Homo sapiens: one gene and its partner. The protein of the gene in region 1 interacts with the protein of each later gene in a pairwise test. Each region holds a gene or a part of one and is shown in the gene's direction. Other genes may lie near its edges.

Region 1 (4,321 bases):
GCCCTCCTAAAATGTATAAATTAGTAGTGCTCAGTCTGCCAATTCTTTTAACTCTTGTTAATCATCCAAAGGGAAAATAATTGTGTGTGCGTGTGTGTGTGTGATGGAGTTTCGCTCTTGTTGCCCAAGCTGGAGTGAAATAGTGCAATCTCTGCTCACTGCAACCTCTACCTCCCGGGTTCAAGCGATTCTCCTGCCTCAGCCTCCTAAGTAGCTGGGATTATAGGCGTTACAGGTGCGCGCCACCATGCCTGGCTAATTTTTTCTATTTTTAGTAGAAACGGGGTTTCACCATGTTAGCCAGGTTGGTTTCGAACTCCTGCCCTCAGGTGATCCGCCCACCTCGGCCTCTAAAAGTGCTGGGATTACAGGTGTGAGCCACTGCCCCTGGCCAGAGTTTTGTGGTTTTAATCTTTTATTACTAGTGGGTTCAAATCTGTTTTCATGTATTTATTGTCTGTACTTTTTGTGAATAAGAGTCAAGCTTCCTATTTTTCTATTATGTTAACTTTTTCTTCTTGACATATAACTTTATATTAAGTATATTGTCTCATATTTGCACTGAAGACATTTTTCCTAATGTGGCTTTGCTTGCGGTGGCTTTTCACACATTTCTTAATTTTATGAATCAAATTGATCAGTTTTTCAATGAGACTTAAAATTCCTTCTGGGGTGGGATGCAATATAATAGAATGAAAAAGGCAGAGGACTTTCACACAATTCAGTCCATGATCTTAGTACCTATGTCTAGTTATCACCTAGCAGGATGTGGTAGGAAGAGCACTGGACTGGGAGTCAGATCACCTTGCCTCTCTGGGTCCCTACTTCCTCATCTGTAGAATGGAGATAAGAACGAAAACTCCCTCCGAGGCCTGTAAAAAAATAATTGAAGAGAATGCACATAAAGAGCTTTCACCAGGCCTTGTATATTAGAAAATCCTCTCTGAATCTCAGCTTTTGTTAGGGGGAGAGGGCAACACAGACTTTTGTAAAACTATTTTCACTCACTTGTATGTGAGTCTACGGGAATGAGGTGGGGATGAGGAACCTAGAAATCTAACCATTCACCCAACATCTCTGAGAACTGCATGGCTAGAGTCAGAACTTGGGCTCCCATCCTGGTCCTGCCCATTTCTTGGTATGCAACCTTGGACAAGTCACCTTTACCTCTTCCGTGACTCAGTTTCTTCCACCTAAAAACTATTATAGATATATGACAGACCACCTGCCCTCATTCCCAGCCCTGCTGCTGGGCGAAGGAAACGCTTCAAAAACAGCTCACAAAGGGCGGCAAACAAGTCTGCTACGGTGCAGCCTACCGCCGAGGGGTGGCCCCAACCCCGGCCCCCGCGCCCCTGCCCTGTCGCAGGAACAATAGCTCCCCTGGAGGCGGCGCCGGCCGCGGCCGGGGGCGGAGCTGTCGGCGCGGGAGCTGGGGGTGTGCGCGGGGCGGGGTCGCAGCCACCCCTCCCGCCGGCGGCTCCGTCACGCGCCCCTCACCGGGCGGGCCGGGGTCTTTGTGACGCGGTGGCAACGGCCACGGACACAAAGGGAAGGCGAGGAGGCGAGCAAGAGGCTGGGCCTGCCTCCGGCCCGCGACCCCCGCCCGCCGCGCGCGCGCCCGCCCGCTCCCCTCGCCGCGGTGTCCCCCACGCCGGCTCGCACCCTCGCGCGCACCCTTGCGCGCCCGCGACCCTCGCACGCGCCCGGACCCGCCGACTCCGTCCCGAGCGCCGCGGGCCCGGGCCTGGCGGACGCTGCGGGTGGGGCGGGGATGCTGACGGGCTGCTCCCCGGCTCAGCGGCGCGGCTGCTAGGAGGCACCGAGGCAGCGGCGGGGCTCTGGGCGCGCGGCTGGATGCCCCCGGCCTGCGGCTCCCTGCGCTTCCCGCCGTCCAGGGGCACCAGTCATGGGCGCCGCAGCCGCTGAGGCGCCGCTCCGGCTGCCTGCCGCGCCTCCGCTCGCCTTCTGCTGCTACACGTCGGTGCTTCTGCTCTTCGCCTTCTCTCTGCCCGGGAGCCGCGCGTCCAACCAGCCCCCGGGTGGTGGCGGCGGCAGCGGCGGGGACTGTCCCGGCGGCAAAGGCAAGAGCATCAACTGCTCAGGTAGGACCGGTCGGAGCCGGCCCTAGGTCTTCCCACCCCTCCGTTGCCGCCTCCCTCGTGGTCCCTGCGGTCGGCCGGGCTGGGAAAGACCCCGTCGTGGGGGTCCCAGGGGTGGGCCCGAGGGTGAGCGAGGGCGGAGGGCAGGGCGCGAGCGTGCGGTGTGGCTTTGGGACCGGCGCTGGGGATGGGAGTGGCCGTGGGTGCGTCCGAGTGTGTCGAGTGGCTGGGCGAGGGCGGCCCGGCGTGTGGGGAGGCGGTGGGGCCGGGGCCGGGGCCGGCGAGGCTGAGCGGCCGGCCGGGGCTCCCGGTGTGGTCGTGGGTGTGCTCGCGGGAGCGTGTGTTTGTGTTGTGAAGGCTGAGGGGAGGGAGGGCGGCCCCAGGCAGGGATCTGTGTGTGTGTGTGCAGAGTGCGGTGGGTGGGAGACGGCGAGGGGGCTGGGCGGGGTGAGGGCAGGGGAGTGACCATGTGCTGATGTGCTGGGGAGATTCTTCCTTAAGGCACTGGGGGTCTCGGGGGTGGGGGTCGTGTGGATAAAGGGAACGGGTTGTCTTGAGGACGCGGTTTGGCGATGCAGAGTGACTGTGTGTGTGCGCGCGCGCGCGCGTGTGTGTTCTTTGGGTTCTGAGATGGGATCTGGGGGCTTAGAGTGACCTCGGGTCTGTGGATATGAGCGGGGAAAGTCCCAGGGCCCAGGAAGTGACCCTGTGTTTTTGTGTGTTGTGTGTGAAGCCTGGGGCTCAGTTAGTCACCCTGGGGTATGCATTGAAGAGGAGGGATGGGTGCCCTATAGCGAACCCCATTTATGTCTTTTCAAAGGGGAGGAGGCTTGGGAGTCATCATCCTGTGTAGGGTTTGGATGTAGAAAGAGGAAATTAGGTCTCAGGGAATGCCCTTGTGTAGCAAGGTGTAACCCTGGGTTATTAAAGTGTGGAAAGAGAGAATTGGGTCCCAGGGAAGATGTCGTGCCTGTGTGTGTGTGTTTTGCGGGAGGGCCTGGATTCTGGCAGCAGCGGGGAGCAAGGGAGTGACCTCTCCCCTCTCTCCAAGGCCGCTTGCCCCCCCACAGCTGTTGGAAACAAAGAGCTTGCTGAGGCTTTAGTGGATAACACTGGGGAGGAGGGTCCCAGCAGTAAAGTTCCTCTTCATTTCTAAAGGGGTCCCAGAGGCGCACAAGGATTATGGCCCTGGGGCAAAGACAGGCATTCAGGTCTCATTTTTTGAGTGGAGGGTCTTCTTGGAGCTGGCCTAGCAGATGCTAGTGATCATAAGCCACATCCTTGCTAACTTGCCCTTTTATCAATTCTGGAGCCTTCTCTTGTCTTCTTTAAACCAAGGCGGAGTAGGGGGAGGAGGGAGGAACATAAGGCCACTGGGAATCTGCCGGACAACCTTTATACTTTTGGGCTCTTGAAGGGGCATTATTTCTGGAAGAGTGAGGAAGGAGCAAGAGAGTCTCAGCGCAGATGCTTATGCTACCCTAAATGAAGCAAGCCTTTGGCCCGCTATTTAGGTTTGAAGGCCTTAAATCTTTTAATAATTTTCATATGGTAATGTTTTATGAGGGGAATGGCAGTTTTGAGCACAGTAAACAATGGCATGTCCATTAAAAGCATTTCCATCCGTGAAAAAACTTTTCTGTTATTTTTCTGATGTTGAACGGGATATGGGGTAATGCTTTATTACATAATCATACTTTAAGAATAAAAACCAGTTGTATATTAGAGTGCCTTTTTATGTAACAAATATTAATTATCAAACTTGTAAGTGATCGCACCATGTCAATATTTTTCCAGCTAATGTGTCGCGGGTATTTGTTCTTGCTAAGCTAATTCGTTCTTAGCAAAATATAGTGTGTCTTGATGGGATGTTTTTGTGTGTACTTTCTAACTTGCATAGTTCAAGTTTTAAGAAAGGAAATAAAAGAAATAGAGGGATGGATACCCTTGAGGATGTGGGTTGGTGATGCAGAGCGACTGTGTGTGTGTGTGTGTGTGTGTGTGTGTGTGTGTGTGTGTTCTTTGGGTTCTAAGATGGAATGTAGGGGCTTGGAGTGACCTCGGGTATGGGCAGGAAAGTCCCAGGGCCGGAGAAGTGAACCTGTGTTTTTGTGTGGTGTGTGTGCGTGTGAAGCCTGGGGCTCAGTTAGTCACCCTGGGGTACTATGCATTGAAGAGGAGGGGTGGGTGACATGCAGTGTGGGAAAAAGGGGACTGAT
Region 2 (3,536 bases), on another chromosome or scaffold:
CAGAAGTTAGCAGTTCCTCAATGAAGAAAACACACTTAGAAACAAGACTTAGACACAGATTGATTCCCAATGGAAAAGAGAAAAACAATAAAGGTTACTGTAATTCAAAAAGGAAATTTGATAATAAAAAATCCCAAACACCCACACATAAGTGTGAGAAAAACAATACGGTTGTTAAGCCCTGTGGCAGCTTTTGAAAAACTATTAAGTAGTATTTGGAACCAGTAGTGAAGTGCAAATGAAGTAGCACTCTTTTTTTTTTTAACATTTGAGGTTATCTCTTTAGGTGTTACCACAAAAATCTGGAAGATCTGGGCCTTGAATTTGTATTTCCAGACACTAGTGATTCTCTGGTCCTTGTGGGAAAAGTACCACTATGTTTTGTGGAAAGAGAAGCCAATGAACTTCGGAGAGGAAGATCTACTGTGACCAAGAGTATTGTGGAGGTAAGACACAGCTGCAGATGTTAAGGAAATTGCTGAGTGATGGTAACCTCATATTTTGTCTGTAGATTCTCTGAATTCATCTTTTCTTCAACAAGTATTCATGGTATTTACCTGCGGTGTGCCAGGAGCTAGAAATTCAGAGATGAGTTAGCTCAAAATAAGGAAGAAGGGCATTTAAAGAATTATAGTCAGTGAACTTTGGCTAGTAGAGGTATGTGTTTTGCTTTCTTCCCAGTGATAAAGGTAATGAAAACTAAGAGTCTAGAATGCACCAAGATAGTTTTTCAGAAGTGTTATGGAAACACAGAATGACTTGTGTGCCTGGGGAGGTGAAGTCAATGAAAATGTCACAGAAAAGCTGTTTTCTTAAGAAAAGTTTTTACTTTTGAGAGACCAGGTCTCACTCTGTTGCCCAAGCTGGAGTGCAGTGGTGCAATCATAGCTCACTGTAGCCTTGATCTCCTGGGCACAAGCAATCTTCCTGCCTCAGCCTCCCAAGTAACTCGGACTACAGACACGCACCACCATGCCTGGCTAATTTTTTCCTTTTTTTTTTTTGTAGAGATGGGGGCCTCACTATGTTGCCCAGGCTGGTCCTGAACTTCTGGCCTCAAGCAATCCCCTTGCATTGGCTTCCCAAACCCCCGGCACTACAGGCATGAGCCACTGCACACAGCCAGAAAAGTCTTACAGAATAGTGGGAAACTAGGCTGGGCAAGGTGGCTCACACCTGTAATGCCAGCACTTTGGGAGGCCGTGGTGGGTGGTTCACCTGAGGTCGGGAGTTCGAGACCAGCCTGACAAGCATGGAAAAACCCCATCTCTACTAAAAATAGAAAATTAGCCGGGCGTGGTGGTGCATGCCTATAATCCCAGCTACTCAGGAGGCTGAGGCAGGAGAATGGCTTGAACCTGGGAGGCGGAGGTTGCATTGAGCCAAGATTGCACCATTGTACTCCAGCCTGGGCAACAAGAGTGAAACTCTGTCTCAAAAAAAAAAAGAAAAAAAGAATAGTGGGAAAGTGCTGAGTACAGAAGAGGGGAGAAGGGCATTCTAGACAGAGGAATACATATCAGAGACTTGAGATACATCCTATGTTTAGGGAACTATCAATAGATATGGCTCAAATTAAGATCTACAGTTGATCCTTGGATAACTTGGGTCTGAACTGCGCAGGTACACTTAAATGCAGATTTTCTTTCACCTCTGCCATTCCTGAGACAGCAAGACCAACCTTTCCTCTTCTTCCTCCTCCTTAGCCTATTCAATGTGAAAATGATGAGGGTGAAGACCTTTATGATGATTCATTTCCACTTAATGAATAATAAATATATTTTCTGTTTCTTATGATTTTCTTAACATTTTCTTTTTCTTTCTTTCTTTCTTTCTTTCTTTTTTTTTTTTTTTTGCGATGCCCAGGCTGGAGTGCAATGGCACAATCTCAGCTCACTGCAACCTCCACCTCCCGGGTTAAAGCGATTCTCCTACCTCAGCCTCCCAAGTAGCTGGGATTACAGGCGCACACCACCATGCCCCGGCTAATTTTTGTATTTTTAGTAGAGATGGGGTCTCACCATGTTGGCCAAGCTGGTATTGAACTCCTGACCTCAAATGATCCACCTGCCTTGGCCTCCCAAAGTGCTGGGATTACAGGCATGAGCCACTACGCCTGGCCAACATTTTCTTTTCTCTAGCTTACTTAATTGTAAGAATACAGTGTGTAATATATACAACACACAAAATATGTGTTAATCAACTGTTTATATTATTGGTAATGCTTCTGATCAACGTTAGGCTATTGGTAGTTAAGATTTGGGGAAATCAGGCCAGGTGCAGTGGCTCACGCCTGTAATCCCAGCATTTTGGGAGGCCAAGGCGGGCGGATCATTTGAGGTCTGGAGTTCAAGACCAGCCTGGCCAACATGATGAGACCCCGTCTCTACTAAAAATTAAAAAATTAGCCAGGCATGATGGTATGTGCCTGTAATCCCAGCTACTTGGGAGGCTGAGGCATGAGAATTGCTTGAACCCGGAAGGTGGAGGTTGCAGTGATCCAAGATCACTGCACTGCACTCCAGCCTGAGTGACACAGTAAGACTCCGTCTCAAAAAAAAAAAAAAAAAAATTGGGGGGAAATCAGAAGTTATACTTGGATCTTTGACTGGATGGGAGTTGGCTAGATGGGTTGTCAAGGTCAAATCATAAAATAATTTAGCATATTCTACTAAGTAGTTTGCATTTTATCCTATAGGCAGCCAGTGAAAACTTTTAAGCAGGAGAGTAAGGTCCATTTTAGATTGCATTCCAAATATGATTACTTTACATATATGTTTTGGTAAAGGTTTGGAAAGCTACTGCTGGGCTGTGGCATTGGAGGTATTAGAGAGAACTATTACTTTTTATTTTGATTACTTATATGTTTCTTTTTTTATAGCAAATATCATTTATTTTGTCTTTATTGTCTTTTTCCTCTCCTTTCCTGTTTTCTATTATAGTTTTCTGTATTTCTCTTTTTTTTTTTGCTCTACTCGTTTAGAAGTTATATATTCCATTTATATCCTTTTAGAGATTAGCCTTAACTTTTAGCATGCATACTTATCAAAGTTTAAAAGTAATTCACTTCTCTATCCTCTTCCTAACTGTACCAAAATCTTACAAACTGTTCATCTCCCATCACCCTCCTCCCATCTTCCATGTTGCTGTCTAGTACTTTAATTCCACCTTGTTTTTAATTCCCTGGTGGTCATTTATTTTATAGTCAATCTTTATTTAGATTAAAAAAAGTGTTCACCAGAGTCTTTGTTCACCATTGCCTCTTGCATCCTACTTATTCTGTGTTCTTTTGGGTTTTTTTTTTTTTTTTTTTTTTTTTTTTTTACTGAAGTAAATCTCTTACAAGATCTTTTATCCACAAACAGATCTTGAGACAAAAAATACAAAAATATAAAAATAAATAGAAGTTATTTTAGTAAGAGTCCGTGGGCCAGGCATGGTGGCTCATGCCTGTAATCCCAGCACTTTGGGAGGCCAAGGCGGGCAGATCACCTGAGGTCAGGAGTTTTGAGACCAGCCTGGCCAACGTGGTGAAA

Evidence for each region. The genes of interacting proteins can lie anywhere in the genome.
Region 2: the proteins of TMEFF1 (region 1) and MLH3 interact in a two-hybrid assay, tested with the Homo sapiens proteins (one large-scale study listed by BioGRID).

The regions. Positions count from the first base shown.
Region 1 is NC_000009.12:100,471,636-100,475,956, forward strand, and holds the start of TMEFF1 (tomoregulin-1 precursor), read left to right. Parts: upstream 1-1,513; 5' UTR 1,514-1,909; coding exon 1,910-2,105; intron 2,106-4,321.
Region 2 is NC_000014.9:75,027,453-75,030,988, reverse strand, and holds part of MLH3 (DNA mismatch repair protein Mlh3), read left to right. Parts: intron 1-273; coding exon of another isoform or gene 274-286; coding exon 287-446; exon of another isoform or gene 447-447; intron 448-3,536. UniProt on the Homo sapiens protein: Probably involved in the repair of mismatches in DNA.